Homo sapiens: one gene and its partners. The protein of the gene in region 3 interacts with the protein of the main gene of each other region in a pairwise test. Each region holds a gene or a part of one and is shown on either strand. Other genes may lie near its edges.

Region 1 (7,525 bases), on a different chromosome or scaffold from region 3:
TAAATATCCTAATATTTAAATATCGGCAATGAATTTAAATGTTTAAAAAACACTGTGAAGGCTAAACAAAATATGCCTACTTGAGACCTCTAACCTTAAAAAGTATACTGCTAAAAATAATGGTATATATTGCATTTTGTCTAATATCTACACTCAATTACCCACAAGAAAATACATACAATTCTGCATTCAAGCTATCTTCTTTTTAATTAGTTTTGTTGTTGTTGTTACAGTCTATATCAACCCCCAAAGCCTCTTTTTCTACAGTTACTCCCAAAGTTTCAAACAGTGAGCCAGATCAGGCAACTAACAGAAAATGGATGTCATCACTCTTCCCTACTGCCAACCAACTGCTTTTCTGAGGGATTAGGCACAGGCCCCATTTTCCTGAACTTCACATCAGGAAGTTCAATTAATCTCTCTCCCCACCACACCCCACTTCCACACATTTTCTTTCAAAATTTTGTGCAATTACACATTCCCTTTTGTACAAATATACTCACGCAAAGCCAAGATTAACCATGATTTAATAAATGGAAAAGTAGTGATATCTTTCATCAAGGAAAAAGAAAGGCCATTTTTAAGGAAAATGAGTGTCATCAAATTCTAATATCCTAAGCAGTATCTAAAAGAGACCATGAAACCATATTATTTTTCAACTTTTATGGTTTTATAGTTTTATTGTTTACTAGTATTGCAATATAATTTATCTTTTATTGCAAATGCATTTCAAACACTGCTAAAATAGGTTTTTTGAGGTTATAATAAAAGTGCATTCCAATTTCCAAGTAACCAATTTATGAAGAAACTTAATATCAATTTTTTAAATTCAGGGATTTCCTATGTCATAAGGACTACAGTGACTACCTTCTTACACATTGCATCCAATAGCAATTTTTTAAATGTTTCCCAGTTTAATCTATAGTATTATTCTACTCTCAATGAAGAGGCCAGTGTTCCATTTTCTCCATTTAGTTTAATGCAACAGAAACAGAAAATATATCAGGAATGCAAAATCAACAGAACTAGACAAGACGAAATAATTCAGTGTGTAGCAACACTGCCACAGCTCTCTTTTATTCAAAATAGATAGCTAGAAAGAATGCGGACTTTAGCTTTGGAACATTTATGCTTATGTTACGTCCCAGCTTGTTACCTGGTTAACTTTAGGGAAGCCACTTAACCTCTCCATTTCTCTCTCTCTTTTTTTTAAAATACCCAGAGCTCTATTTGTATTTACCTCCGAAAATCAACTTACCGAAGATTCACTATCACGAATGAGGAAATCCCCTTCATGTCCTCTTTCATTTAATGCCATTTCTGCTTGATGCCTGGTGACTTTGCCATAATACCAAGGATTGCCAGCAAACTTTCCAGTGAGTGAAGGCCTAATGTAATCACACTGTGGAGGTGATGGTTCCAAACCTGAAGTTAATGGATTATTCTGCATAACGGTAACATAGTTTTTTGGTACTAGACCAACCATACCATTGATCTTCCTGCATTTCCACCACTCTGGGTCATTTTCAGGTTTTTCAATAACATCCATTACATCTCCTTTCTCGAAATTAAGTTCTTCATCATTAGATGAGCTGAATGGGTAAAGAGCCTGTACCACATGCAACACTTGCCCAGTATTTAGGTTATTGACGACTGCTGCTAATTTCTCTGACAGAGAACCCACATGGTCACCCAAAGGACTGTCACCTTCTTCAGTTACATAGTTTGAAGGGAACCATCCAACTTGTCCATTGTAGCTACCACGCCACCACCCATCACTGCATTTCTCCATGACGATCACCTTTGTCCCCTTTATCAATGATAATTCATCCTCTCTCTCAGCCATGTAGTTAAATTTCACATAAGCGGGCATGTTGAGGTCATAGAGACGTTCCCCTGGGTCAACAAAACTATCATCAGCAGGAGATGCAGAATCTGGCACACTAGGTTTTCTTTTCACTTTTCCAATGCCTGTTGAAATTAAAAAGGGCCATGAGAGGAGAATATAAAAAAATGATTACCAAAAGAATGAACTTATTCATTATTAAAAAGAGATCTTCAACTCTATATAGATCTTTAAAGCTTTTAAATATAACAAATTTCTATGTAGTTAAAAATCATCTTTTTGGAAATAAGATGCAAATTTTCTTTTTCTTAACCAAATAAATATTTAATTTGTTATTATATGACAGTTCACCATCTTTTCTCTTGTCAAAGGCCCTGAAATAACTATATAACATAATTATAAAGTTGTCCTAAATTAATGAATTCCCTCTTAAATGTAAATATAGATTTCTTTCATAGCTACAATCTAAGTACACAAAGGCTCCACCACACCCATACTCTTCTTGTCTTAGTTTAAGCAAGCTAGATTCTACAATGAGCTGTATAAAAATAAAATTATTTCTATCTTAAATCAGAATATGATATGCAATATAAAATTGCAGTTATGTCTGGCTAATCTTCCCATTTGCTTTCTTGGTTCCCAGACCCAGGTAGCTCTATTTACCTCATATGTTTATTTTAAAATATTATTTGTTTTTCTCCCCTTACCCCAGTCATATGTAACCTCCAAAAGGACAGGGAGTTTTGTTTGTTTACAGATAGAATCCCAAGGATCTTGTATAGTGCTTAGTACACAGTAAATGCTTAACACATATGTGTTGAAAGAAATGAGAAAATCACCAAATGGTACTATCAATACAAATGTACGCTACATCAACTTCAGTCAGGCATTTTCACTGCTGCCCATTTCTTAGCGTGTGATTTTATGCTCTACTTTACCTAGAAAACTGAGGCTTCCCTAGGTAAAACTTCTCAAATTCCTTTTGTCTCAAAACTCTCATTATCCTCACTCTCGTTCTTCACTCAAGTCTCCAAATCCTGATCCTTCTAGGATCTTAATACTATCTTTCCTGACTCTCTTGGGACTCTCGACATCCTTGTTTTCCTTCCTATTTAGTCCCTTCAATTGTCTAAAAACACACTCATATCTTTTCTACTCCAAAATGAAGTTACTTTAACTCTGCTACAACTTTTAAACCGTAACATTTTGGTAATTTATTTATTTTTTCTCTAACTGGTCCAATTTTCCTATAGAATAAACTATACCACTCTTTTAAAAGTTGTCTTTCCCGGCTGGGCACGGTGGCTCATGCCAGTAATCCCAGCATTCTGGGAGGCTGAGGCGGGCAGATCACAAGCTCAAGAGATCGAGACCATCCTGGCCAAACATGGTGAAACCCCGTCTCTACTAAAAATACAAAAATTAGCTGGGTGCAGTGGTGTGCACCTGTAGTCCCAGCTACTCAGGAGGCTGAGGCAGGAGAATCGTTTGAACCTGGCAGGCGGAGGTTGCAGTGAGCCAAGATCACGTCACTATACTCCAGCCTGGCGACAGGGCAAGACTCTGTCTCAAAAAAAAAAAAAAAAAAAAAAAAAGGTTGTTTTTCCTTTTCCCTCGACTTTTTCACCACTCACACTCCCAACTCTTTATTATCTGATCCTTTGTCTCCAACATTCTAACAAAACTACTCAATTAAAACCATTCTTATGAATACCATTCTTATGTCATCTCTCCTTACTGTCAAATCAGTAACTTTTAAAGTCCTCAGCCTTCTCAAACTCTATATGCAGCAACCAAGATCACAGCCCACTCTCTCCATTATGTTTTCTTCTTCTTTGACTTCCCCGAATTTCTTATTTTCCCTCCCAACCTGTTTACATATTCTTGTTTACCTCTGTCTAGGCTCCTCTAACCTTGTTATTATAACACTGCATTGTACTTGTTTACTTGTCTGTCTTCCTCAATATGAGTGAACTTCCTGAGGGCAGAAAACGAGATCTTATTCGTTTCTGTCTCCAACGCTTAGCAGTACATACATCAGTAGTAGGAACAAAGGAAAAACAAAATTATGTATTCAGCAGTCAGCAAACATGCTGAATGAATAAATGAAGAATTCCTTAGCTGAAAGTGTTTCACAAGATGACATACTTGACCTTCCTCTCTATTCCAAGGAAATCATACACTTTCATTTTCTATAATTTCTGTGCAGAAGGTTCCCAGATCTCTTTGCAGCTCTAAGACCTTTCTGGAATTCAGGCATTACAATTCCAACTGTCACTAGACACCCACAGATTGTGCCATCAGTACCTCAAACCCAACACTCATGTCCAAATAAAAATAATCCAGTCTATACCCCTAAATCAACTTCTTCCTTCCTAATTTTCTTACTTCCGGTTAATGATAGCCTTCAGAGAAATCCCTACATTTGGGGTGATACCACCAAAAATAGTAGAGTAAGGAACTCCAAGGCACTGTCCCTGCAAAAAGCAATGAATGCAATTAATGAGCTGGTAAATACTGTCAGACTCAACTTTTGCAGAACTCTGGAATCTAGTAAAAAAAAAAAACTTATAAAATCTAGGGCAAGGCTTGGTAAAGAAAGAAGTTGCTGCTTTGTGGTAAAGAGAGTGCTATCGCATCCTAAGTTGCCTGCCCACCATCCCCCACACCCCAAGTCAGTGATGGCTGTGTGGACAGTAACCTGCACTCCTAATGCCAGAGGAAGCAATACAGATCTCATTCTTAAACAATTGTGATTGTGGGTTTCAACTTGTCTGGCAGCTCCCTGAAGGACCTGAGCAATGGCTTGCCTTGGCTTTGCCTGACTTGAATCATTCCCAGGCATAGGGAGTCTTCCTGGGTGGTTTTTGCAAAAATCATTTAATGGATGCAGCAGCCTGGGGCAAGGGACAACAACTGGGACAAGGAACAGACAGATGGAAAAGCCTGGACAGAAAGGGGATGGGAAAGAATATACATGGGGTAATAAGGGGTGTGTATACCAATCAAGAAGGACGTGCACATGGCCAGGGCTGGATGCACATTCAGGAAAGGCCCAAGAAGACCCTAAGCTTTCACCCTGGCTGATCTTCAGGCTTTGAGCAAACAGTAAGCAAAGGCTAAGGCAGAATTATAAATGGCATCACTAAGTGGTCAAAAACTGCCCCAACATAAAGCCATCTGTAAAGATGGGGAGAGGTTTTCTTTTGTTTGTTTGTTTTTTCTTTTGGCTCCAGGTGTTTAACGAAACTCTGTTAAAACCCTAGCTGATTACTAAGCAAATGGAATAGACTTCAGCGGCCCCACATGACCAGGAATATAGAGCTTATAAAAGTAGTTTAGTAAAGTCACTAAACAAGCAAACAACAACCACTCACAATAAGCAGCAGTAATAAGCCCTGGGGAGGGGATAGAATCTGATCTGATGCTGAAAGCAAAAGAGCCAACAAAGAATTCTATATTTAGCAAAACTGTCCTTCAAAAATGAAGGAGAACATAAGACATTCCCAGATAAACAAAAACTAAAGGAATTCATCACTACCAGACCTGTGCTAAGAAATGCTAAAGAGAGGCTGGGCACAGGGGCTCACACCTGTAATCCCAGCACTTTGGGAGACAGCGGTGGGTGGATCACGAGGTCAGGAGATCGAAACCAGCCTGGCCAACATGGTGAAACCCCGTCTCTACTAAAAATACAAAAAATTAGCCGGGCGTGGTGGCACACGCTTGTAGTCCCAGCTACTCGGGAAGCTGAGGCAGGAGAATTGCTTGAACCCGGGAGGTGGAGGTTGTAGTGAGCCAAGACCGCACCACTGTACTCCAGCCTGGGAGACAGAGCAAGACTGTCTCAAAAAAGAAGTGCTAAAGAGAATCCTCCAGGCTAAAATGAAAAAACACTGGACAGTAATTTGAAGTCATATGAAGAAATAAAGAACAATGGTAAAGGTAGCTACATAAGTAAATATAAAAGTCAGTAGTATTGCAGTTTTTTTTTGTAAATTCTCCTTTTCTTTCCTACACAATTTAAAATACAAATGCATAAAACAAAAATTTCAATTCTAGGTTAATGGGCATATATTTTAATGTGTAAAGATGTAATATACAAAGATGGAGCTGCAAAGGAGCAGAGTTATGCATAGTACTGAAACTAAGTTGGTATTAATTCAAACATGATTGTTAAAAACCTAAGATGTTAATCCCCAGGGTAACCACTAAGGAAAAACAAAAATACAGAAAGAGAAACAAGAAGGGTAATAAAACAATATATTAGAGAAAATAGTCCAGTCACAGAGGCTCACACCTGTAATCCCAGCACTTTGGGAGGCCAAGGTGGGCGGATCACTTGAGGTCAGAAGTTCAAGATCAGCCTGGCCAACATGCTGAGACCTCGTCTCTACCAAAAAAATACCAAAAAATTAGCCAGGCATCGTGGCATGCACCTGTAGTCCCAGCTACTCGAGAGGCTGACATATAAGTGTCGCTTGAACCTGGGAGGCAGAGGTTGCAGTGAGCAGAGATTCCACCACTGCACTCCAGCCTGGGTGACAGAGTGAGACCCTGACCCCCACCCTCCAAAAAAAAAAAAAAAAAAGAAAAAGAAATCACAAAAGAAGACAGTAATAGAAGAATTGAAAGAAAAAAAAGTAAATGAAAACAGCAAAATAGCAGAAATCCTTCCTTATCAGATATAACTTTAAATGTAAATAGATTAAAAATAACATGATGCAACTGTTATCTGCAAGACACTCACTTTAGATCCAAACAAAGATGCAAATAGGTTTGAAAATGAAAGGATGGAAGAAGATATCCCATGTAAAGGATAACTGAGAGAGTGGGGTGGCTATATAAATATCACACAGCATAGGCCCGGCGCGGTGTCTCATGCCTGTAATCCCTGCACTTTAGGAAGCCGAGGCGGGTGGATCACTTGAGCTCAGGAGTTCAAGACTAGCCTGGCCAACATGGTGAAACTCCGTCTCTACCAAAAATACAAAAATTAGTTAGGCATGATGTCAGGTGCCTGTAATCCCAGCTACTCAGGAGGCTGAGACAGAAGAATCGCTTGAACCTGGGAGGCGGAGGTTGCAGTGAGCCGAGGTCACGCCACTGCACTCCAGCCTGGGCAACAGAGCGAGACTGTCTAAAAATAAATAAATATATATCACACAACACAGACTTAAAGACAAAGGACAGCATATATTGATAAAAGAATCAGTCCATCAAGAAGTGTAACAGTTACAAATATATGCATACCTAACAAGAGAGCCTCAAGGCATATAAAGCAAAAAATGACAGAATTGAGGGAGAAAAATAGTTCAATATACTTGGAGACATCAATACCCCACTTTCTGTAAGGGACAGAACTAAATGAAAAATCATTAAGGAAATAGAGGCCTTGAGCAGTACTATAAACCAACTAGACCTAATAGACATATAGAGAATATCCCATCAAACAAAAGCAGAATATATCACACATTTTTCTCAAGTATACATGGAATATTCTGCAAGATAGACCATATATTAGGACACAAAACAAGGCTCAATAGGCCAGGCACAGTGGCTCAAGCCTGTAATTCCAACACTTTGGGAGTCCAAGGTCGGGGGATCACTTGAGCCCAGGAGTCTGACGGCAGCCTGGGCAAGATGGTGAGACCTTGTCTCTACAAAAATAAAAAGTAA
Region 2 (7,525 bases), on a different chromosome or scaffold from region 3:
AAAACTGCCTTATATTTTATACTTGCAAATAACACTATGAAGTAAGTATTAGGGTCCCCAATTCCCGAGTGAGGAAATTGAGCACAAAGAGGTTAATTAACTTACCTAAGGTGGCAGTTGGTGAGTGGCAAAGCCAACAATACTTCAAAGCCAAGACTGCCTGTACCCTAGACGTGTGCTCTGTAATGCCTCAGAATCCTTGTTGGAAGTGGCCAAGCAGGGCCAGCACAGACAGAAGGGGAGGATGGAGAGGACTCCAGGTTTCGTGGTGCACTCCTGCTTCACAGTATTTATTATAGTAGCCATACATGTATTTTAAGGCTGTCTGATTGTTTTCTCCACTAGAGCGTAAACTCCTTGAGAGACTGCACCATGTCTGCCATCTTCAATGCTCCATGCCTACCAGGAACTTAATAAGGTTTTGGGGACCTTATTCAAGAAAAATACTATGAAAGCATCACTGCTATATAACCTGTTCCTGCTCACTAGATAAATGAGGCCCTCCTGACCACAGCCCAGCATATCTCCAAGTCTCTCTCTGCTGCCCTGTCTCTGCAGAGCCCTCTCACAAGGGAGAGGAAATGGAATGGGTTGGGAGAAGAAATAAAAATCTGGGGTCTCCCTCCTACAAGGAAACAACAGGGGCCTAGGACTCATAGTGGTGGGGGAAGCGTCAGAGCAACAGGGGCTGAGGTAGGGAGACAAGTGGGAAAGGGAGAATAGAGGCCTTCCCCTCTGCCACTCCCTGAACCCCATGACATCTCACCACCCCAACCTTGGTTCCTGCCTCTTTGGTTTCTGTGTTACTGCCACCTCTTGGACAGTAAATGTTGGTTTAGTCCTTAAGCCTCCAACAGAGTAAATCTGTGGGGCTGGAGACGTTCTAAATAATGACCGGAAGTCGTCAGGTCAGAGGCCTGCTTGCTGAGACATCCTGCTTCAGCAGAACCCACTAGGCTCTCCTGTTTTAGAGCTACTTGACCCAGCCGCCACAGCATCTGGCTGCACTCCCTTTGCGCCATGCCAGCCCAAGCCAAGCCACTCTCCTGTTCCCTTTTTGCTTCCTGGGAAACAGGGCCCCAGTGAGTGATCTAGACTCTGATCTCACTCCAAGGTGCCAGGGATCTCATTCACTCACTGCCTGCCCAGAAAGCCCAGCTTAAATTTTTTTTTTTTTTTAAAGAGACAGAGTCTTGCTCTGTCACCCAGGCTGGAGTGCAATGGCGCGATCTTGGCTCACTGCAACCTCTGCCTCCCGGGTTCAAGCAATTATCCTGCCTCAGCTTCCTGAGTAGCTGGGTTACAGGCGCCTGACACCACGCCTGGTTAATTTTTGTATTTTTAGTAGAGATGGGATTTCACCATCTTAGCCAGGCTGGTCTTGAACTCCTGACCTCGTGATCCCCCTACCTTGGCCTCCCAAAGTGCTGGGATTACAGGCGTGAGCCACCGTGCCCAGCCCAGCTTAAATTCTTTGAACTCACCTCCCCTACTGAGAGAGATGGCTACCTTGGATTTCTTTCTCTGAAGTTGAAGTTGAATAACCTATCGTTTTACCTGCTTAGGACAGCTGCTTGCCCAAACTTTACTAGCACACATGATTGTATGGAGCTTCATGCTTCCGGTGTAGACCAGTTCTCAGGCCAGAACCAGGCCATCCTCTTGTGATCAGTCTGGCAACAGACATTCTGTTCTCACTGGAGGGAATGCTCTGTGTTTCACTGCTGGCCTCAAAAGGCCCTCAGCAAAATCCTTAACAAAGTGACATATGTTACCTTTTCCAACCTCCTTGGTAGATATGCTAAGAACGCCCAAGAAAAGGCCACAGTCCCAGTTAGGATGGACAAGCTAACACAGGCACATTATACTCAATTACTGTTGAAGGTGGAGGAAGTGACTAGGGCAGGAAGAGGGGAGCTGCCTCCAAACAGGTGGTGGACTATCAGGCAGAATAGGGTGACCATAAAGTGGGTCTTCAGTGCCTCAGAGAAGGACCATCACCCCTGCCCCCATCGCTGCCCAACCTCCCAACTGAGGGAATGGAGTTGTATTCCTTAGCTCACCTCCTGCCCCCAAGTAAGCTGAGAAACCTGTGGGACCTATGGCCAACTGGAGCTCTCCTTCACTCCTTCCTAGGGTTAGTCACCCTGTGAACTCAGGCCCACACTCTCTGGGCCTTAGGCTGAAGTCAAGGTGGGGTTGGAATTCTCCCACCACACATCCACACCTACACAGCCAGAACCCAGTGTGGTCAATACCCGACTCCTACCATGGGCAAGGCCAAGCCAAGGACACTATGACCCAAGCCCATGCCCTCAACAATCATTTCCCTCAGAACATTTTAACTCAACCATATCCCCAGGTGTCCAAGAAAACAGGAAGCCAACCCCAAAGTGAACTCCCCACCTGTGCCCAGGAAGAACTAAACACACACAAACAAGTGGCCAAACTCGCCATGGCCCAACTCCTCACCAGTTTGGCCAGCTGTTCACTGTCAGGGCCCAGAACATCAGTAAGACCACCCACTCTCCTCCGTACCCAAGCCTTGCTGCCTTGCGCCCAGGCCCCTCACAGCCTTTGTACAGATGCTTTACCCAACACCTGTGTGCCAGCTGGCAGGTGGAGGGACCCCAGGGGGTAGGATGGGCTGCTACAGGGAGAAAAGCGATTCCATCTTGGCCCTCAGGCCCAGCCTACAGCACTTTAGGCACAGCTGTCTCCTGCCAGCCCTGGGCATTAGCGGTTTTCTGCATGGTCCAGATCACAAGCTTCTCAGGATCAAGGACTGGGTCACCTCGTTTTCTTGCTTCCTAACTCCAGCCTCCTCTGTGCCAGGCCTGGGCTCAGTAAAAAGGGATGCCAGTCTTCTGTAGGAGAACGCCCTGCCCCGTTTACTCTGCATCCTGAGTCTTGCTGAAGCCAGGGCCACCGGCCAACACCAGGAAGGGCCAGGGCCGGAAGGAAGCAGCAGAGCCTATACACAAAGCCTACATGTGGACTATAAAAAGGAGCTCCTCCCTGCCTCCCCCAGGATGGGCCCGGTTCCTAGGAGGTAAAGAGTGGGGAGAAAGCTAGGACTTAAGCCTGGGCACACAGCCACTGCAGCCTCTCAAAAGCTAGCCAAGAACCACCTCAAAAGGAACTAGTCTTGCAAGGAGGGGTGCGAGAATATTAAGGGCTTAGCCAGGAATGCAAGTAGAGACTCTCCAAGTCCCATCTCTTGGGACCATAGCCTCTCTTAAGGCAACCAACTCCACTGTCCCCATTGCTTCTTCCCCAAAACTACAGAATATTCGGGGACCAACCCCTTCTCACACTTCTCTACTCTCTAGGGGCTGAAAACACCCCCTAGAAGTCTCTAGGCACCCATATTCCCCACTTTCTCTGGAGACTTCAGCACACCCAGCAAAGCTCTGGGAAGCAAGTGTGATGAGTGGCAGAAGTAGCGAGAAACTCAAACTCTGGGCAGCAGGAGGATACTGTGGCCACAACAGAGTAGGCTCAGCAGGCAGCTCAAGTAGGGCCATGGGTTGGTGGGGAAGGCGGGGGCAGCTATGGCAGAGATGACAATTAGGCAAGGGCCACACAAATATACCTATTTCAAAGATGTCAGCCAAGACAGTCTCTTGACCCACACAGGCAGCACTCTACTCTACCACAACAGCAAAGCCACACTCACCACATGCATCCTAAGTCATAGAAATTAATTCCTTCTAAACCTCCATACTCCAAATCCCTCTCCAGCCTAGTTTGCCCAGGGTGTTCAGGTTCTGTACTAGAGGCCTCACCCAGAACCACTGAGGCCACTCTCCAGGGACGGTGGTGTAGGTTAGCACACATAGCAAACAGGGGAAATTAACCTTCCTTGTTGCCAGCCATTGATATGTGGGCATCATTTGTTATCACAGCACACCCTCACCTACCCTGACAGAGCAGCCTCTTGCCTTATTTCCTTCATAGAACTCACCAAATCCTATAAGAATTTTATCTGTCTGCCTATTTATCTCCTTTCTGGCTGTATCTACCCTAACCTTATGTCCACTACTGGTCTCCACAGTGCTTGGCACAGTTAGCAAATGCCAGAGTCTAAAGCCAGGGAAGCACAAGTCGTCTCTCACTTATTCAATGAGCCACTGAGGCCCAAGAAAGCTAGTTTTTTGTTTTTTTTTAAGGAGAGTAGGTATGGTGAGATGGAACACAAACCACGCTAGAGATCTACTGCCACCATGAACAAGTCAGAGGCTGGAGTAATCACATCCAGCTCAGTGTGCCCAACACACAGTAGCAAGGCCCACAACAAATGTATGACAAATTAAAGAGCACATGAATGAATGCATGCTCTTGAGTTGTCATAGAGAATCCTGGAAAAGCCCTTCTCAGGATATTTGGGGCATGGAGCCCCAGGTTCCCATGTTCTGTAGAAGCTTAGGCGGAAGTGTCACCACAAACCAGAAAGTCAAGAGGGTGAGGCTCTTCTGTGTCCCACCCCCAATCAGCGGCTACATTCACCCCCATGTAGGAGTGTGGGAAAGGTCTGGGTGGGCCAAGCATCTCGACACCGGTGTTGTGGCAAGGATGAGTGCAGGACGGGTTTTGAAATTGAGGCAATGAGTCCAGCTTGTCCACAGATGGAAGTCTAGGCTGGTCAAACACATGTGGCCAGAGGGAAGAAAAACAAAACAAAACAAAATAACCCTCTGTTCCTATAGAACGGTCCATCCTATTATCATTTTCCCCAGAATGGGAGAATAAACTGAATACTATAGCAGGAATCTGAAATCCTAGGATCTGCCATGAACTTGCTATGTGACCTTACCCTTAGGGCTTGGTTTTCTCCTCTGTAAGAGAGGGATAGTAACTCCTGCCCTCCATGGATTCATGGAGCTGCTGTGAAGTTCAAACAATACAACAGGTGAGAAAATGTTCCATGAACTCCCAATATGCTATTCCAATTCCAGAGTTTTTTGATGCCCCAGTCCTCTGTGTACAGACTCAGGGAAGGAACACAGAAAGCAAGTAGGAAACAGACTCCTAGCCCAGGTTGTTGGAGCAGCCACTTGTGGCCGAGCTTAGTGGTGGAAAAGATTGGAGCTCTGTGGTTAACAAAGGTGAGAGTAAAGGAAATGAATACTGTTAAGTGGCCACTAAGTGACAAATGTTGTGCTGGGTAGTTTTCACATAAAATCTCTTACTCTTATATATAATCTCCCTTATTATTAATATACAGCTCTGTGAGGAGAAATTACTTTTACAGCTAAAGATCAATTTCAGACAGGGAAAAGTAATCTGCCCAAGGTCACAGTAAGAGCTGAGACCTGAACCCAAATCTGACCAGCTCTAGCCACAAATCTCCAGGCACTTCAGCTCAATTACCAGCAAGGTGGGACTATCTGGTCAATGGTAGCCTGAAGCCACTCCTCACCCGTGGCTCCACCTTGAGTCTTGCCACCTGTAAACATGCTGCTCTCAGAGATTCCCTCCAAGGACGCACTGTTCCCATGCTCCTCTCAACAAGGCACTCTACAAGGGGCACCAGAACATTCCCATCCTCCTATCCCACACCCATCTCTCCTAGGACTCTCCTCACAGTCTGCAGTGACTTCTCTAGTTCTAACAAAGCAAGTGGAAAGGGGGAAAAATCAGTCTCCTAATATCACACCTTTGCAATCTCAGGCCTCACTCCCTTCCTCCAACTTATCATCTGTGGTCTCCTTGAAGCCACATCCCACAGGAAAAGGCACAGAGTAAGAAGAGATGCTGTGAGTTAACGGAGACTGACACAGAACAGTGACAGCAGAGGCAGGCCCTACCACATCGAGGCTGTGGCATTAGAGCACTTCCTCAAAGACAAGATCTCTCCAGATAGCGTCCTGGGCTAGGCACTTAGAAATAGGACAATATCATACCTTCACTCTACAGAAGGGGTTACCACCCAAAGCAGCTGCTTCCAGCCAACTGCCCTGTCTCCCTGCAAAACCAGCAGTGGGAAAGAGCCCTGACAATAGAGGGACTGCTGAGAGCTGCAAGAGAGGATGGGCGGGCCTCCTTGCCTCTGAATCAAAGGGCTTGGTGGCCAGGCACCAGCCCCTTAGGACAGCAGGTGCATTCGAACTCCTCCCCACCAGGTCCTCCTGAGAACTTAATCCTCATCTCTGTCCTGTCAGGGATCCTACGTAGTAAGCACTTACACTGTGCCACACTCCATGCTAAGCACTTTATACAGGTGCTAAGCACTTTATACAGGTTCTCATCAAATCCTCACAAAAACCTTATAAAATAAATGCCATTTAATACTATCCTTTTTACAGATAAGCAGCCCAGAGAGGTAGTCATATGCTTTAAGGTCACAGAGCAAGTAAGCTGCACAACAGGATTTTAATTCAAGCAGAGTCTAGGGCCCAAATGCTTAACTACTAAGCTCTGTCTCACCCCTCAAGACCCAGCCCTTCTCCCATCTACCACCATGGCATCCCCACCCTGCCTCAGCAAGAAGGTCTTGTCTGGGCCCTCAGCAGCTCTCTCCTGCAAACTGTGCAAACCGTAGGAGCTCACTGGCCTCCCTCCCCAACACCTGCCTGACAAACCACTGCCACTGTGGTCTCCCAGGCAGAGGCAAGTCAGTCCCACAACAGCCTCCGCTGACTCCCGTCGCCTCCAGGACTGAGTGTAATCTGCTGGACATGGCACACTAGGGCTATAGCTGTCTCCAACCAGTCCCAGCTTCCTCTCTACCACACCATATCTGTTCCCTACCCCTGCACAGAGTGATTCCCAGTTCCTTAGCCTCGGCACAGACAGGTGCCTCAGTAATTCAAGGCCTACCTCAAAGGTCACCTCTCCTTTAATGCCTTCCTGGCAGAGCTCCTCACAGTTCTTGGTAGAGGCCTTTATATTATGGTATGTAACACACAGGGTTATAATCATATGCCTCTACATCTGTCTTTTCCAAGAGTTCATCAATGGCACAAACCATGTCTCAATAAACTTTTGAATCCTTGGTGCCTAGCACTGGGCAAATGGGGAGGTATAATAATACTTATTGCAAATATTAATAAATGTGCCTCATTCCAAGAAGCTACCCAGAGCAAAGCTGGTAGCCAAGATCTCTAAACTCCAACTGAATCCTGTGCATCTGTGTACACACACACACAAGAGTCTGGAGAGAAGCTGGAGGTGTTGTGGGTCCCAGGACTGGGTGTGCTCAGCTCCTCCAGTTATCTGTGAAGCAGGCCCTTTTCCTAGGTTCACAGGAAACAGAGGATCCCAGCTGGGCGGGGGGGCCTGGAAACCCACACATCGGGGCAAGCCTGGGGTGCTGAGGAAACACTAAAAGGTCTGACTTCCCTTGGAAAAAACTACATCAGACAGGAAATACACAGGCAGGGATGGCTAGCTCTGGAGATCCGGACATGTGCTCCTGCCCCTCTCCCACTGGGAGTAACAGCCAGTACAAAGAAAACCCTTGATGACACCGGCCTGGGCCTTGCCCTCTCCCGTGCTGTGGGCCTAGCCCTCGGAGCAGGCC
Region 3 (7,525 bases):
TTCGGGAGAATGAACTCCAGAAGCTATTTAACCAGGCTTGGTCTACAAAGAGCCTGCCACGGGGTACTTGGAGGCTTGTCAGGATAGGGATTCTCGGATCCAGCATAAAACCTGCTGAAAACCCGCTGCGGGACCCAGACACGGTGTATCTTCTCCCGAGGTCCATTGTTCTCCAAGAGGTTTGGACCTGGACTTTCCAGAGCCAGCAGTGCAGAACCCTGATTAATTCTCAATGAGCTCTGGGGTCCTGCCCACACTCGGGTCTCTCTGAGTGACAAGCCGTGACAAGCTGTCCTAGTCCATCTTCTCTCCCTAGCCCCTCTCCTGTTCCTCCAAACAGAGTCTTTGCTGCTAACTCAAAGGAAGCACATCAGCAGGAAGGGGGCTCCCTTCAAGGGTGAGAAGGTGGCGGTGGAGGCGGGGACACTGCAGGCCAGGGGGCCAAGCAAGAAGGGGCAGACCCCAGCCCCTAGAGAATGAAGGTTACAAATCCAGGCTGCCCCATAGCAATATAATTGGAGTCACAAATGTAATTTTAAATTTCCTAGGAGACACATCAAAAAAATAAAATGGGCTGGGCATGGGGGCTCATGCCTGTAAATACCAACACTTTGGGAGGCTGAGGTGGGAGGATCGCTTGAGCTCAGGAGTTTGAGGCCAGCCTGGGCAACACAGGGAGACCCCTCTAAAAAAACAATTAGCCAGGTGTGGTGGTGTGCACCTGTAGTCTGTGTGTCTGTGGTCCCAACTCCTTGGGAGGCTGAGGTGAGAGGATTGCTTGAGCCACGGAGGTCCATTCAGAAAATGGAAAGCTGAGTGGTCGATGAACCGGAACTGGGAGCAGCTTTCTATGAATCAGAGAAAATGCAAGTTAAAAGGAGACACCATTTCCCACGCATTAGACTGGTAAATATCAGGAAATACCAAGTCTTGCTGAGGAGGAGGGGCCCAGGGAGTTCTCACACCATGTGGGTGGGATTGTAACTTGGTACAACCCCTGGGAAAGCAATTTGAGAACACTGGTGAAAGCTAGCTCTGTGCACGGTGAAAGCCCCGGGCTAGGCAACTTCTCCTCTAAGGAGGTACCCGGGGAAGCCCCGCCAGCCCTGCATAGAAGAATGTTCCCTGCAGCACAGTCTGAAAGAACAAGATCCTGAAAACAACCCAAATGTCAACAGGAAGAGAAAGAATAAAATGCGGTTAACCATTCCATAGAATGTATAAACTGAGCTACATGATCAACTCAGGGTGGATTTTTTTAAGTGACTATTAAGGAAACATCAAGGCAAAGCTTCCAGCGAGCGGGAAGTGCCCGGAAGCCCCGCTTCCCCTGCCCCACACAGGCGACCCAAGGCCCCATGGGACAAACAAACACGTACCTTCGCCAGCAACTGCATATGAGATCAGCAAATGACCCATTGCACAATCAGCCTGCGTTTAAGATCATGAGGCAACCGGAAAGCATCTAATCAGTTAATCAGCTACATTTTGCAGGAGACACTCTCCCCCCTGCTACTGTCTCTGGTCCCTGTTTTTCTTGGGATCCAGCTCTAGGCTGGGGCTGAACCCACAAAGATGAGACACCCCCACCAGGTTCCCAGGGAGCAGCACCTTGCCTCACTGGAAGACACCAGACATGGGAAGGAGTCATGTCCCACAATTTCTCCCACACTCAGGGTCACCCCTACTTTCTCCTGAGACCCATGAAGAAAGGTGGGGCCTCCTTCTGTGAGAAAGCAGCCTAGGCTGGAGCGAGTGGGTAAAAGATCTCAGCTTTAGTATCTCAAGACCAGACGGGCCTGGGGCTGGACGCTGCTTTTGAAGGTGTTTTCTAAAAGCAAGGACTCAAGATACTTGCACAACCATGTTCGCAGTAGCATTATTCACAACAGCCAGAGGGTGAAGCCACCCAGGTCCTCAAGGATGGATGAATGTATAAACAAAATGTGGCCCATCCACACAATGGAATATTACTCAGCCACAAAAAGGAAGGAAATTCTGACACACGCTACAACATGGATGAGGCTTGAGAACATTATGCTGAGTGAATTAAGCCAGACTCAAAAAGACAAACACTGCATGATTCCACTTGGATGAGGTCCCTACAGAAGTCAAAGAGACAGAAAACAGACTGGTGGTCGCCAGGGGCTGGGAGAAGGGGGCTGGTTTGCTAGTGTTTAGTGGGGACGTAGTTTCAGTTCTGCAAGCTGAAGAGTTCTACAGATACATGGTGACGATGGCTGCAGAGCACGATGAGCATCCTTAATGCCTCAGAACTACACACCTAAAAATGGTGAAAAGGGTAACTTTTTATGTTATAGGTATTTTGCACAATTTATAAAATGTGCATTGGGAAAAAAAGTGCTCTCAATTTCCACTGAACTCTTCCTGTATCACACACCGCTTCCTTTACCTCCTTTAAGTGTTTGCTCAAGGACCGCTACCTCAATGCAGCTCACCCCGACCATCCTGCTAAAACAGCAGCCCCCCTGGCTCCCAGCCCCCACCAGCAAGCTCTCCTTTCCTCCCACACTACATCACTGCTTATTTATGATCTCCTTTAATTATTGTTTGCTCCCCTGGCGAGGATGTCGACCCTACAAGGGCAGAAATATTTGTCTGTCTGGTTCACTGTTGTATCCCAGAGTCTAGAGCAGCCTAGCAGACACCTGCAGCACATGCCACAAAAGACGGCAGAATACTCATTCTTCTCAAGGGCACGTGGAACATTCTCCAGGAGAGGCCTCATGCCCGGCTATAAAACAGCCTCATTAAACATCAGCAGGACTGAAATTATACAAATAATGTTCTCCAACCACAATAGAATGAAATTCGAAATTTATTTTACAAATGCACAAATATGTGGAAATTAAACAGACATCTAAATAGCCAATGGGTCAGAGAATAAACCACGGGGAAATTGGAAAACACTTTGAAACGAGTGAAAAAGAAGACAAAACACATCAAAACTTATGGAATACAACTAAAGCAGTACTTAAAGGAAATTCAGATCTGTAAATGTCTATGTTAAAAAGAAGAAAAATCTCAAATCAATAACCAAAACCTTCCACCTTGTGAGAGTCAGAAAAAGAACGGGAAACTGAAACTGAGCTAGCAGAAGGAAGGAAATAATAAAGGTTAGGGCTGAAGTTAATGAAATCTAAGCTAGAAAAGCAATAAAGAAAATCAATGAAACTACAAGTTGGTTATTTGAAAAGATCAACGAAATTTACAAACCTGAGCTGAAATGATCAAGAAAAGAAGGGAAGACTCAAATTACCAAACTCAGGAATGAAAGAAGGGACATTATTACCAACTTACAGAATTAAAAGGAGTCAGGCCGGGCGTGGTGGCTGATGCCTGTAATCCCAGAACTTTGGGAGGCTGAGGCGGGCGGATCACGAGGTCAGGAGATCAAGACCATCCTGGCTAGCACGGTGAAACCCCGTCTCTACTAAAAATACAAAAAAATTAGTTGGGCCTGGTGGTGGGCGCCTGTAGTGCCAGCTACTCGGGAGGCTGAGTCAAGAGAATGGTGTAAGCCCGGGAGGCGGAGCTTGCAGTGAGCTGAGATCACGCCACTGCACTCCAGCCTAGGCAACAGAGCAAGACTCTGTCTCAAAAAAATAATAACAATAATAATAATGAGACGGTGCTACAAACAACTACATAGCAACCACATTAGAGAAACTCACATGAAGTGGACACATTTCTGGTGGGACACAAACTAACAAACTTGACTCAAGAAGAAACAGAAAATCTAAAAAGACCTATGACAAGCAGAGATCCAATCAATAATTTTAAAAGTTTTCACAAAGAAAAGCCTAGGCCCAGATGGCTTTATTGGTGAATTCTACCAAACATTTAAAGAAGAATGAAGGCCAATTTTGCATAAACTTTTCAGAAAAAAATGGAAGACAATGCTTCCCAAGTCATCTTATGAGGCCAGTATTACTCTGATACCAAAACCAGACTTCAAAAGAAAACTATAGGCTTCCTTGGGCAGCCAGACACCTACAAAGTCCTCTCCACTCTCCTGTCTACACTTGCAAGCCTGCCTCACTCTATAAATTGGCCAGGCTGCTCTCTCAGAGTCTCCTAAACTGCCTTAGGCTCTGCCAGCCTCCTTGACCCCACAGCCTGGAAGGTGCCTCTGCATGCTCCCACCATCCTAGACCCCACAATCAGAGGGCCTGCCCCTGGGGTCGGAACCAGCTGGTGGCTGTCTGAAGCCCCTGACTAAACTCCACAGACATATCCTGAACGACAAGAAAAGGTACATGCATCATTCAAAGCACCCTTTGGACCACATGGCACAGCCAGCTTTCAAACGGGACCCATGCACTGACAAGGCGGATCACACGCTCCTCCCAGAGGCTCTCAGCGTGCAGCCCCGGGAACCAGCCTATTCGAGAGATCTATGAAGTCAAACCATTCTCATCATAACACTGAGATGGGAGCTGCTTTTTCAAGCTCATCCTCTCCCAAGTGCACAACGGAAGCTACAAAACTTGTGATATTGCAACAAGCTGACTGCAGGAGCAGATACGGGAACCCAGCTGTCTTCCATTAAACCTCACAGCAAAAAGACCACAAAAATGTTAAACAATGCCACTCTTCTCACCAAGTGTTTTTTTGTTGTTGTTGAGATGGACTGTCACTCTGTTGCCCAGGCTAGAGTGCAGTGGGGCAATCTTGGCTCACTGCAACCTCCGCCTGCCGGGTTCAAGTGATCTCTTGTGCCTTAGCCTTCTGAGTAGCTGGGACTACAAGTGTGCCCCACTGTGCCTGGCTAATTTTTGTATTTTTAGTGGAGATGGGGTTTCACCATTTTGGCCAGGCTGGTCTCGAACTCCTGACCTCAAGTGATCCACCCGTCTCGGCCTCCCAAAGTGCTGGGGTTACAGGTGTGAGCCACTGCACTATTTTTTTTCCTCACTCTGTCACCCAGGCTAGAGTACAGTGGCGTGATCACGGCTCACTGCAACATCGACCTCTCAGGCTCAGGTAATCCTCCCACCTCAGCTTCCTGAGTAGCTGGGACCACAGGTGCGTGCCACTACACCTGGCTAATTTTTTATTTTTTGTAGAGATGGGGTCTCATTATATTGCCTAGGCTGGTCTCAAATTCCTGGCCTCAAGCAATCCTCCTGCCTCAGCCTCCCAAAGTGCTGGGATTACAGGCCTGAGCCACCTCGACCGGCCTCACCAAGTGTTTTTCTTATTTTGAAAATAGTTGTTATCCATAAAAACACATTATTTATACCAACATGTCATGAGTTTATTACTATTTTTAAATGCATTAATAATTAGATATTTGTAAATTCTAATAGCGTAAATAACAATAGATTCGTGCTCATACATAAAAAGCTTCTGGGTCCTTCAAAATGCTAAGAGAGCAAAAAAGATTCCTTAAGCTAGAAGTCTGACAACCACTGTGCTACCTCATCTGCTTTACCTGAAAGTGAACAGAAAAATAAACTGGTGTGCCACCCAGGAGGCAATCTGGAGGCCGGGGAAGCGACCGGTGCCTTCTTCTGCACGGTGGAGTGGGCAGCCGCCAGGTGTGGATCCCAGCTGGGCCACACGACCTTCGGCAAGTTCAGCCACTGGAGCTGAATGACCCTCGAGGGAGGGAAAGTCCAGAACCAAGACGAGGGGCAGTAGCGACGCCATCGGGTCAGTATCTTCCCCTGCCAAAGTCCCCTGGTCCATGCTTGGGGCCACTGTAGGACCTTGAAATGCAGACAGGAGCAAGGCGTGGTCCCTTTCCTGGGGGACCTGTCCACCTCGTGAGGAGGGGTCAGACAGGAGCCCGGCTGGCCCAGGGGCAAATGCCTCTAGTTTGCAGGCCCCTGTACGGGAAGAGGGGAGTGGAGCAGATTCTTCAAATCCCAGGGACATTTGTGCGGGGTGGCAGGAAAAACATGGACAGGAACGGCTGAGCCCTATGCTCTCAGGGGTACAAATGAGGCCACAGAAGCATCCCCCTCCACTCCCCAGGAAGCCTGCATTCTCCCCAGGGAAGGAATCCAGGGCAGGATTTTCAGGAAAGACAGGCTTGGAAGCTCATTTCCCACCTCCCAGGAGCCCGGAAGTCTGTGTCAGCTCCAGGTCTGGAAACCCAGGATGCCCTGCACCCCATTCCTTGGGCCCTAAGCCTCCCAGGACCCACCCCAGTGGACCAGGGAGCAGACTGCCAGCTGTCCAGACTCTTGGCCATTCCCCACCCCCACCGAGGACTCTAGGTGCTGACTCTGGATTCTCCTTGAGAAGAGGAGGGGACTGATGAGCCGGAGTGAGGAAGACGTGGGGCAGGACACCCCCAAGTCTGCAGGGAGGCAGCAAAGCCTGGCAGTATGCAGAGCACACACCTGGCATCACATGTCACTGCCTTCACGTAAGTATCATCACTGTCCCCAGGTAAGAATCACCTGCAGGACCTTGAGTACAGGTGTAATCTTGTGAACTAAGATCTCCCTTGCAGGGGGCTTCAAACTGAGGTGCAAGGACCCTTTCCACGTAGACCCAGCTCAGTCTAAAGGGTAGCCAAGTCTTTCCTGAAATTGCTCAGTGGAGAAAGGCCTTGGATCCCCTGCCCACCTCCCCTCCCTAACATCCCTGAGGCTCTTTTACATAAGAAAGGCATAGCTATCCCCCGGAAGCTGGTGAGGGGGTGGTGCAGCTCCAGGTGAAGGGCCCTCCTGATACCAAAACAAAAGGGCTAATGCAACTAGGGCTTCAATTAAAACACCAAAAACACCCACTGCCTTCTCACTCAGAGAGGCAGCTCCAGTAACAGCTCCCCTTTTCCATTTCTAAAAATCTGTAATATATTTATAGTTTTTGACCAACTGCGCCCCAGCAATGACTGTACAGCTTTTTCAATTCAGAAGTAATTTTTTTAAATACTTAGCAACTCCAGGTCATGGGAAATTTTATGAAAGTCAATTTATGTATATTTTTCGTGCAGAGAAGTATGCTAGGTTGATTAATAAAAGACCCATGAGCATAAAAGTCTATTACATTAGGATAAAATTCTTTGGGGAAGTGGCTGTATAAATTCAAGAAAAGAACGATGAAAATGTCCTAAAGCTCACTTACGTATCCGTCAAGAAAAAGTGGCTGTGAGTCACGATGGGTTTATATCACAGTGGGTAAAGAGTCAGGCAACAGTTCCTTTTAAAATATCGATATTTACCTCACAGAGGTACCGTAGCCTTTACAAATATTTAAACCTATAAAGAAAAATTTTAGACGTTGACTTTAAAATGTGTGAGAAGCTTGGTAAATGATGAATGGCACAATCTGAAAGGAGTTTACTGGCAATTGTTTCAGCTTTGCTGGATATTTGAATTTTTCATAAAAAATTGTTGCAGAAAATGTATGAGAGAACAAGCTGTTTTTTTTAAAAAAAACAACACTTTCAGGGACAGACAAAAAAAAAAAAATGGAAGAGGCAGGCCCCAGCCCAGCAGGGCCATGGCAGAGCTGCAGTGCTTATGACCTCTAATGCACGCCTCCT
Region 4 (7,525 bases), 830 kb from region 3:
ACCACTCAAAATCAGTGTCGCTCTACTAGAAATGGGTTTAAAGTGCCGAACAGCCTGACAGCTGACAAGTGGTGACACAGGAGGACTGTGTTGCAGGTGCTGACGGTGAGCCCTGAAGTCTGTGCTAGAAGTGGCCGCACAGGAGGGTCGGGGGGAGGGTAGGAGGCTGGTGGCAACTGTGCCTTGCTGGGACTCGTGCTTGGCCAGCTTCTCCTTGTAATCAAACCCCACAGCAGCGGAGTCCTGCCTCTCCGACTGAACACCGAATTTGCCTCCAAAACCAGTCTTATAATCTGAAAATCCACAAGCAACGGTGGGGAAAACAACCAAAAGAGGAAACACAGTTGGGTTAGAATTGCATGAGCATGCGCAAAAATCAAACACAGTTTCCAGAAAGCAAGGGCTCTCCTGAGCTTAGGGCCTTTGAGATCCTACTCCCAGGCTCAGCGCCAGAAGGTGGCTCCAGAGGTCAACGTTAAAGAATGAACTTAAAATCTGAACATTCAGCGAAGATCTGGAACAGCCTAAGAACTGTACTTCAAATAATTCAGTAAAGGCACTCCCGGCTGTGCAGTTCATTCTTAGCGTCCTACGCACACTGCAGACGAGTGTGCGTATCTGTGTACACGGGAGGAGAGACCCTGCAGATTCGGAGGGCGCTGCAGCCCCATTAGCCCCGCTCCTGCTTCTCTCAGGGCTGGGTCACACTGAGAGGCTTTCAGCCCCCTCAGGCTCCTTTTTCCAGGGAAGGGGCACCCATTCCAACAAGAAAACACTTTCGGTTCAAAAGTAAGTATCTCCTGCCAAAAACCGTGGCCCACTTTATAGACAAGAAGCCTGGATGAGGAGCACTGCAGGCTTGGCCCATGTCCCCACTCCCGGGTAAACCCAGCCCCCCGCTGCAGGCCTGACACATGCCCCCACTCCCGGGTAAACCCAGCCCCCCGCTGCAGGCTTGACCCATGTCCCCACTCCTGGGTAAACCCAGCCCCCTGCTGCAGGCTTGGCCCGTGCAACCCACTTCCAGGTAAACCCAGCTCTCTGGGGTACCACCCCGTGTCAGCAGGGAGGGTTTGTGACTACACTAGCTGGAGGGAACTGGGGGATTGGGGGGGCACACAGGACAACTTCAAACAGTGAAGACAAAACAATGTGCAGCAGGCACACGCAGACACAACACATACCAACTGACCCCGCAAGGAACAAAAACAAACTTCTAAAACCATCTCGCATACAGGCAGAGTGAATGTACCTTTTTGGGATTCATGCAGCTGCAATTTCTCCTGGTGATCCCAGCCAAGGGCACATTTGTCTTGTCTGTCTGTCTGCACACCAAATTTTCCTCCAAACCCTTTCACATAGTCTACATGCACAATGAAAGGCCAGAACCCATCATTAACAGGTAGTGCAGGTCACAGGTGGAAAGTATGTTTTCAATACAGTTAAACGCATATGATTCACTCAATCTACTCTTCCCTTCCGGATCTTTGGTAATACTTTAGATAACATCCATGAAGAGGCCCTCCTTGGAGAGTGGCAGGAAATAACCTAGTCTATGACCTCAGCATCGTGACTAAGCCAGACAGGACCCCATGGAAGCTCCCACGCATGCGGCTTCCACCCGCACCATGAGACAGCACAGGCTCACACGGGCAACACAGACGTGCGGGGTGTGGCCACCACGATAAGCAACGCCGCTGGGGCTGGAGCGCCATAACACTCAAGCTGCGAGTTCCTATTTAGCAGCTGTGTTTCTGGATGTGCCGTTTTCAAGTTGGGCATTTCATGAAAAAGAGACATCTACGTTAAGGGCTATCAATAACGCTTTGTTTTTCCTTTTCCGGTGTGGCTACCACCTGTCACATTACTAGCTGCTGGCTGGAGGGTAAGATAAAACGGAAGACACCTTTCTGGGACTCGTGCTTCTCCGTTTTGCCTTGATACTCAAAGCCAACGGCGCTCTTATCCACTTTGTCCTTGTCGATACCGTATTTGCCGCCGAAACCTTTGGAGTAATCTAAAAACAAACAAAAAAGGACTACTTTAAAAGGAGCAACGAAATCAGTGAACATGCAAGTATTTTATCCTTTGATTAAAAAAACAAAAATCTTTCAGGTCCACTGTAGGACCACTGAATAATACAGACAGTATTTAAAGGTGCTATTTATGTGTAATAACAGAAACACAAACAGTGGTAACCAGAGGTGGGGGTGTGTGCCTGCAGCCCAGCTACTCAGGAGGCTGAGAAGGGAGGATCACTTGAGCCCAGGAGGCGGAGTCCAGCCTGAGCAACATAGCAAGACCCCATCTCTAAGTTAAATCATTAGCTAATATTTTAAAAATTCAAAAAACAGGCTGGGGGAGGGGGCTCACGCCTGTAATCACAGCACTTTGGGAGGTCGAGGTGGGTGGATCACCTGAGGTCAGGGGTTTAAGTCCAGCCTGACCAACATTATGAAACCCCATCTCTACTAAAAATACAAAATTAGCTGGGCGTGGTGGCCCACACCTGTAATCCCAGCTACTCGGGAGGCTGAGGCAGAAGAATCACTGGAACCCAGGAGGTGAAGGTTGCAGTGAGCCGAGATTGCGCCACTGCACTCCAGCCTGAGCAACAAGAGTGAAACTCCATCTCAAAAAAAAAAAAAGAATTAAGAAAAAAAGTTTTTTTTTTTAAAGTACAGCAGAGGCTGGACACAGTGGCTCACACCTGTAATCCCAGCACTTTGGGAGGCCAAGGTGGGCGGATCATGAGGTCAAGAGATCAAGACCATCCTGGGCAACATGGTGAAACCCCGCCTCTACTAAAAATACAAAAATTAGCTGGGCTTGGTGGTGCATGCCTGTAATCCCGGCTACTCAGGAGACTGAGGCAGGAGAATTGTTTGAACCCGGAAGGAGGAGGTTGCACTGAGCTGAGATCGCACCACTGCACTCCAGCCTGGCGAGAGAGAGAGACTCCGTCTCAAAAAAAAAAAAAAAAGAAATAAAGTACAGCAGATGAATTCCTGTAACATCATCCATTGCATCCAGAAGCTAGCAGGAGATGAGAGTTTATGATAAGGCTCTAAGCTCAGGAGGCAGCAGAAGGGCAAGGCTTTCAAAGGCCACTCTTCACAAACTGAAGCACGCAGGGGGATGCCAGGAAATAGGACACACACAGCATCCTCCAGAAACTTCAGTTCTACTCAGAATGAAGCCATTTAGCATGTCACTGTGACACCAAAACATGACTCTCTCATGGACCCACTAACAGCACAAGGCAGAGGATCAAGGCCTGGGAGAGAAGGCCTGAAGCATCCAAGGAGCCTTGCGTCTGCCCAGGTGCTCGGCCTGTGCTCCCTGGCTCCCTGGAGTCACACACTCATGCAGCTTCGCGGAGCATGCGCTGCTCACAACTGTGTGGTGTCGGGAAGAGGAGGAATGGACTGTTCCCAGGAAAGAGGCAGAGAGCAGAGGCAAGCAGCTCTGTGCGGCAGGCAAGGCCTGACCGGCAGGAAGGCAAGGCCAGGCCAGGCCGCGACAAACTACAAGCCAAGCTGCCCTCCAGGCCACCGGCACTTTCCTCAGGGAAATGCCAAGCCAGCATGGTCGGATCTTCCAGTGGTGTTTCTTGCTTTGGGGTAATTTTTTTTTTTTTTGAGTTTTTAAATAGTCAAGCTCTCACTTTTCAAATGTTGGCAAATATTTTTAAAAATTTAAATGTGCAGGCCAAACAAGAGGCACAGGGAAACAGGCAGGCCACAGCCTCTGCAGCCCTGGGAAACGCTCTGAGTGATGGTGTACAGGCTATGCAGTGGGGAAGGAAGAACTCAGCACAGCCTCCAAGGACAACTTGGCAGTATCTATGGAAATTTTACATTCAATAGCCTTCGACCCAGCAATTCCATGTCTAGGAGTTGATTCTTTTGAATAATCACTTGTGAACAAAACACAGGTACAAGAATGTTCCCTGCAGTCAAGTTTCAGCTGGGCGCAGTGGCTCACACCTGTAATCCCAGCACTTTGGGAGGCCAAGGCAGGGCGATCACCTGAGGTCAGGAATTCAAGACCAGCCTGGGCAACATGGCAGAACTCCGTCTCTACTAAAAATACAAAAATTAGCTGGGCGTGGTGGCGTGTGCTTGTAATCCCGGCTAGCCGGGAGGCTGAAGCACGAGAATTGCTTGAACCAGGGAGGTGGAGGTTGCAGTGAGCAGAGATCACGCCACTACACTCCAGCCTGGGCAACGGAGCGAGACTCCGTCTAAAAGAAAAAAAAAAAAAATTTACAGGTCACACCTGTAATCCCAGCACTTAAGGAAACCAAGGTGGGGGAGGATTGCTTGAGACCACGGAGATCAAGACCAGTCCGGGCAACACGGCAAGACCTCATCTCTACCAAAAATAAATAAATAAATAAATAAATAACCTAAATTCCACATTCAAAAAAGGAATGGTTACATGGACTATGGAATCCTCATACGATGGGGAACTGTGCAGCCATTCGAATTAGGAAAAGCCCACATACACTGGTACGAAAAGAACACCAAACATTTTCAGTTAAAAAATCTACAACAATCACGTGTGCAGAGAGAAAATGCCCTCGTGGGTGTTTCTGGAGCAAACGCGTGATTACAGACCGTGGGGTCCGCCCCACCTCTCTGTGACTCGTGCTTCTCCGTCTTGCCCTGGTAGTCGAAGCCCACCGCGCTCTTGTCTACTCGGTCGGCCTGCACGCCATACTTGCCGCCAAAACCACTGGAGTAGTCTGGAGAGACAGGGCAGCAATTAGCACGGGGGCCTGAGGACGAACTACACTGTTCCTTTTGTTAAACTAAGCAAAAGTGTGTAGGGGTTACAACTCACAAACACATCAAGCGCACATTTTAAAATGTACAACAAGCCACCCACTGCTCCATACAGGTGACGCTGGACCCTGTTTCACAACAGGTGCATGGGGGGGTTCTGGGCCCTGTCAGCTGTTACAGGGCAGTTCCTTTGTGTAGTCAGAAATGACGCTGCATGCCCACTTTGAAAATCAACTGCTCAGGTAAAAGCTGGAAAGCTTCATACAAAGAACCAGCACTTTGGAGGCTGAGGTGGGCGGATCACTTGAGGCCAGGAGTTTGAGACCAGCCTGGCCAACGTGGCAAAACCCCATCTTTACTAAAAAATAGAAAAACTAGCCAGGGGTAGTGGCACACACCTGTAATCCCAGCTACTTGGGAGGCTGAGGCAGGAGAATCGTTTGAACCCAGGAGGCGCAGGTTGCAGTGAGCCGAGATCGTGCCACTGCACTCCAGCCTGGGCAACAGAGCGAGACTCTGTCTCAAAACAAACAAACAAACAAAACAAAATGAAAAAAATGGAAAGAGAAAGCCTCATATGAAGAAAGCCATGCAGCTGAACATGGGAGACAAGACCCTGATCCTCCGCCTGCCCACACCACAGCTACCTCCACCTAGACTGCACCGAGACTGCGTAAGGACTGAGAGCTTGTTCCGCGGATGATGCAATGACACAAAGGAGGAAGAACTAAATAAGCTTGCAAAAAATAAACTGAGAACTTTAAGGTGGCGATATGCTTTGGTCTTTCAAAAAAGAGACTGCATGATGTAATCAAGATTAATCACCAGCAGTTAAGACCGTATGTGTATAAGGAAAACAAGAATTTAACAACTCTGGTTTCTAGCCTTGGGGGGAAGTTAGCTTTCTGCCGATCAATCTGTGAGCTCTCTTTTCCAGGAGGAGCGCTGCCCAGATGAAGGGAAGGCGGCTTCCGCTACAAGGGGGAGAAGCCCCACAATGACAGCAGATGCCAGGGCTCCGAGGGGGATGTGTAACGGGGAATACATCCATCATGTGGTATCCAGATGATCCAGAAACATGAAGAGGAGGGCAGAGTCCTCCTTGTGGCAACAGCCACCGCTCAGGAAACGGCTTCAGGTGGCTGTGACTCTCCCCATCAGGGCCCCCGGAGCGCGGGGAAACGGCTTCAGGTGGCTGTGACTCTCCCCATCGGGGCCCCCGGAGCGGGCTCTTTCTGCACCTTTCGCGTCTTACCTTTCTGGGAGGCATGCTTCTCAGTCTTCCCCTGGTATTCAAAGCCTACAGCAGACTGTGACGACCAAAAACACATGAAAAAGTGGGGAGAAATACTTTCCAATGTCCCTGAAACAATCTCTCTGAATTCATGACATGACATTTAAAAAAATATGAAACACATGATGCTGTGACCTCTGGGTTCCTAAGCCAGGTGCAGGTGGCAGTGACGCAAGAGCTCTGGCATCCTAAACGGACAGGCCCACTGCAAGGCCCAGTGGGCGGCGCAGGCCAAGCCATATCCCTGGTGACCTGCCCTCCCCAGCATGCGGCAGCAGGGAATGCTCAGCTGATTCATTCCACGGGCTTCACAAAAACTCGCTTCTCAAATAAGTCATGCTGAGAACATTAGTATTAGTAATGAGAATAGCAGTGGCCACCAGGGGTGCACTCCCACCAGCCAGGCACTGCGATGGGCATCTGAGCAAACACCCGTGAGATAGGTATGATCATCCTCCTTTCACAGACACATAAATTCAGAACCGTGGCTAATATGTCACAAAGCCACAATCTGCGACCAGCATCAGCTCCCTGCTCCCTCCAGGCTCCTGATCGCTCCTCTATTAAACAAAAGAGCCAACAGACCCGAGCCGAAGAGAATCAAAGAGGCTCGGGCCTAGGATGACTGCAACAACACCTGGACGCAAAGCCTGGGTCCTGGACACGAGCGCATCCTGCCCCCCCGGTATAGGCTCTGATGTCACTCTGTCACAGTAACACACATGTGAGAAACACGGGTGGAAACGGTCCCTGCTGGCACATTGGGACAGACACAGGGCCATCCAGTACTGAGGCACGTAGTGAAGAGCGACCGCAGGGACTGCTACAGCAAGCCCGCCGCATCCTGCTTCCTCTCTCTGAGAGCCCAGGCTCTCAGAGCATCCTGGGAGGCAGATGCCCCTCTCTGCAGTCCCCCAGAGCTGGAGGGCACCTGCCTGCTACTACAAGTGGCCCAACAGGGCTCAGATCTACGGGGAACGCCCCCCTTGCCCCAACCTGCCCCAGTCCCAGTGCCACATCACTCACCTGATCAACTCTGTCCATCTGGACACCAAACTTGCCTCCGAAGCCACGGACCGAGTCCACCTGCGAGCAGTGCTTGGAAAGTTTCGACTGATATTCGTGGCCGACAGCTGACTGGAACAGGGTTCAAACACAAAGCATTAGACACCAACAACACTGCGGCGCTTCACTTCCTCCCAGAGCAGGGCTGGGGGAGGCCACATCCTGGTCAGTGCAGGGAAACCTTACATTAACACACCCATCTGGGGAGCCAAGGAAGGCGACACGACTCCTGGGAGGCCCGGGTCCTTGGTGCAGGCTTTTTTTTTTTTGAGACAGAGTCTTGCTCTGTTGCCCAGGCTGGAGTGCAGTGGCGGGGTCTCGGCTCACTGCAAGCTCCGCCTCCCAGGTTCACGCCATTCTCCTGCCTCAGCCTCCC

What was found.
Region 1: the proteins of SHANK2 (region 3) and NCK1 interact in binary tests that used the Homo sapiens proteins (3 or more experiments, as listed by UniProt).
Region 2: the proteins of SHANK2 (region 3) and PLCG1 interact in binary tests that used the Homo sapiens proteins (3 or more experiments, as listed by UniProt).
Region 4: the proteins of SHANK2 (region 3) and CTTN interact in a two-hybrid assay, tested with the Homo sapiens proteins (one study listed by BioGRID).

What each region holds. Positions count from the first base shown.
Region 1 is NC_000003.12:136,940,029-136,947,553, reverse strand, and holds part of NCK1 (SH2/SH3 adapter protein NCK1), read right to left. Parts: intron 1,972-7,525; coding exon 1,259-1,971; exon of another isoform or gene 1,223-1,258; intron 1-1,222. UniProt on the Homo sapiens protein: Adapter protein which associates with tyrosine-phosphorylated growth factor receptors, such as KDR and PDGFRB, or their cellular substrates. Maintains low levels of EIF2S1 phosphorylation by promoting its dephosphorylation by PP1.
Region 2 is NC_000020.11:41,141,505-41,149,029, reverse strand, and holds part of PLCG1 (1-phosphatidylinositol 4,5-bisphosphate phosphodiesterase gamma-1), read right to left. Parts: intron 1-7,525. UniProt on the Homo sapiens protein: Mediates the production of the second messenger molecules diacylglycerol (DAG) and inositol 1,4,5-trisphosphate (IP3). Plays an important role in the regulation of intracellular signaling cascades.
Region 3 is NC_000011.10:71,240,075-71,247,599, forward strand, and holds part of SHANK2 (SH3 and multiple ankyrin repeat domains protein 2), read right to left. Parts: intron 3,455-7,525; exon of another isoform or gene 3,322-3,454; intron 849-3,321; exon of another isoform or gene 722-848; intron 1-721. UniProt on the Homo sapiens protein: Seems to be an adapter protein in the postsynaptic density (PSD) of excitatory synapses that interconnects receptors of the postsynaptic membrane including NMDA-type and metabotropic glutamate receptors, and the actin-based cytoskeleton.
Region 4 is NC_000011.10:70,414,238-70,421,762, reverse strand, and holds part of CTTN (src substrate cortactin), read right to left. Parts: intron 7,222-7,525; coding exon 7,111-7,221; intron 6,101-7,110; coding exon 6,046-6,100; intron 4,751-6,045; coding exon 4,640-4,750; intron 2,018-4,639; coding exon 1,907-2,017; intron 1,364-1,906; coding exon 1,253-1,363; intron 294-1,252; coding exon 183-293; intron 1-182.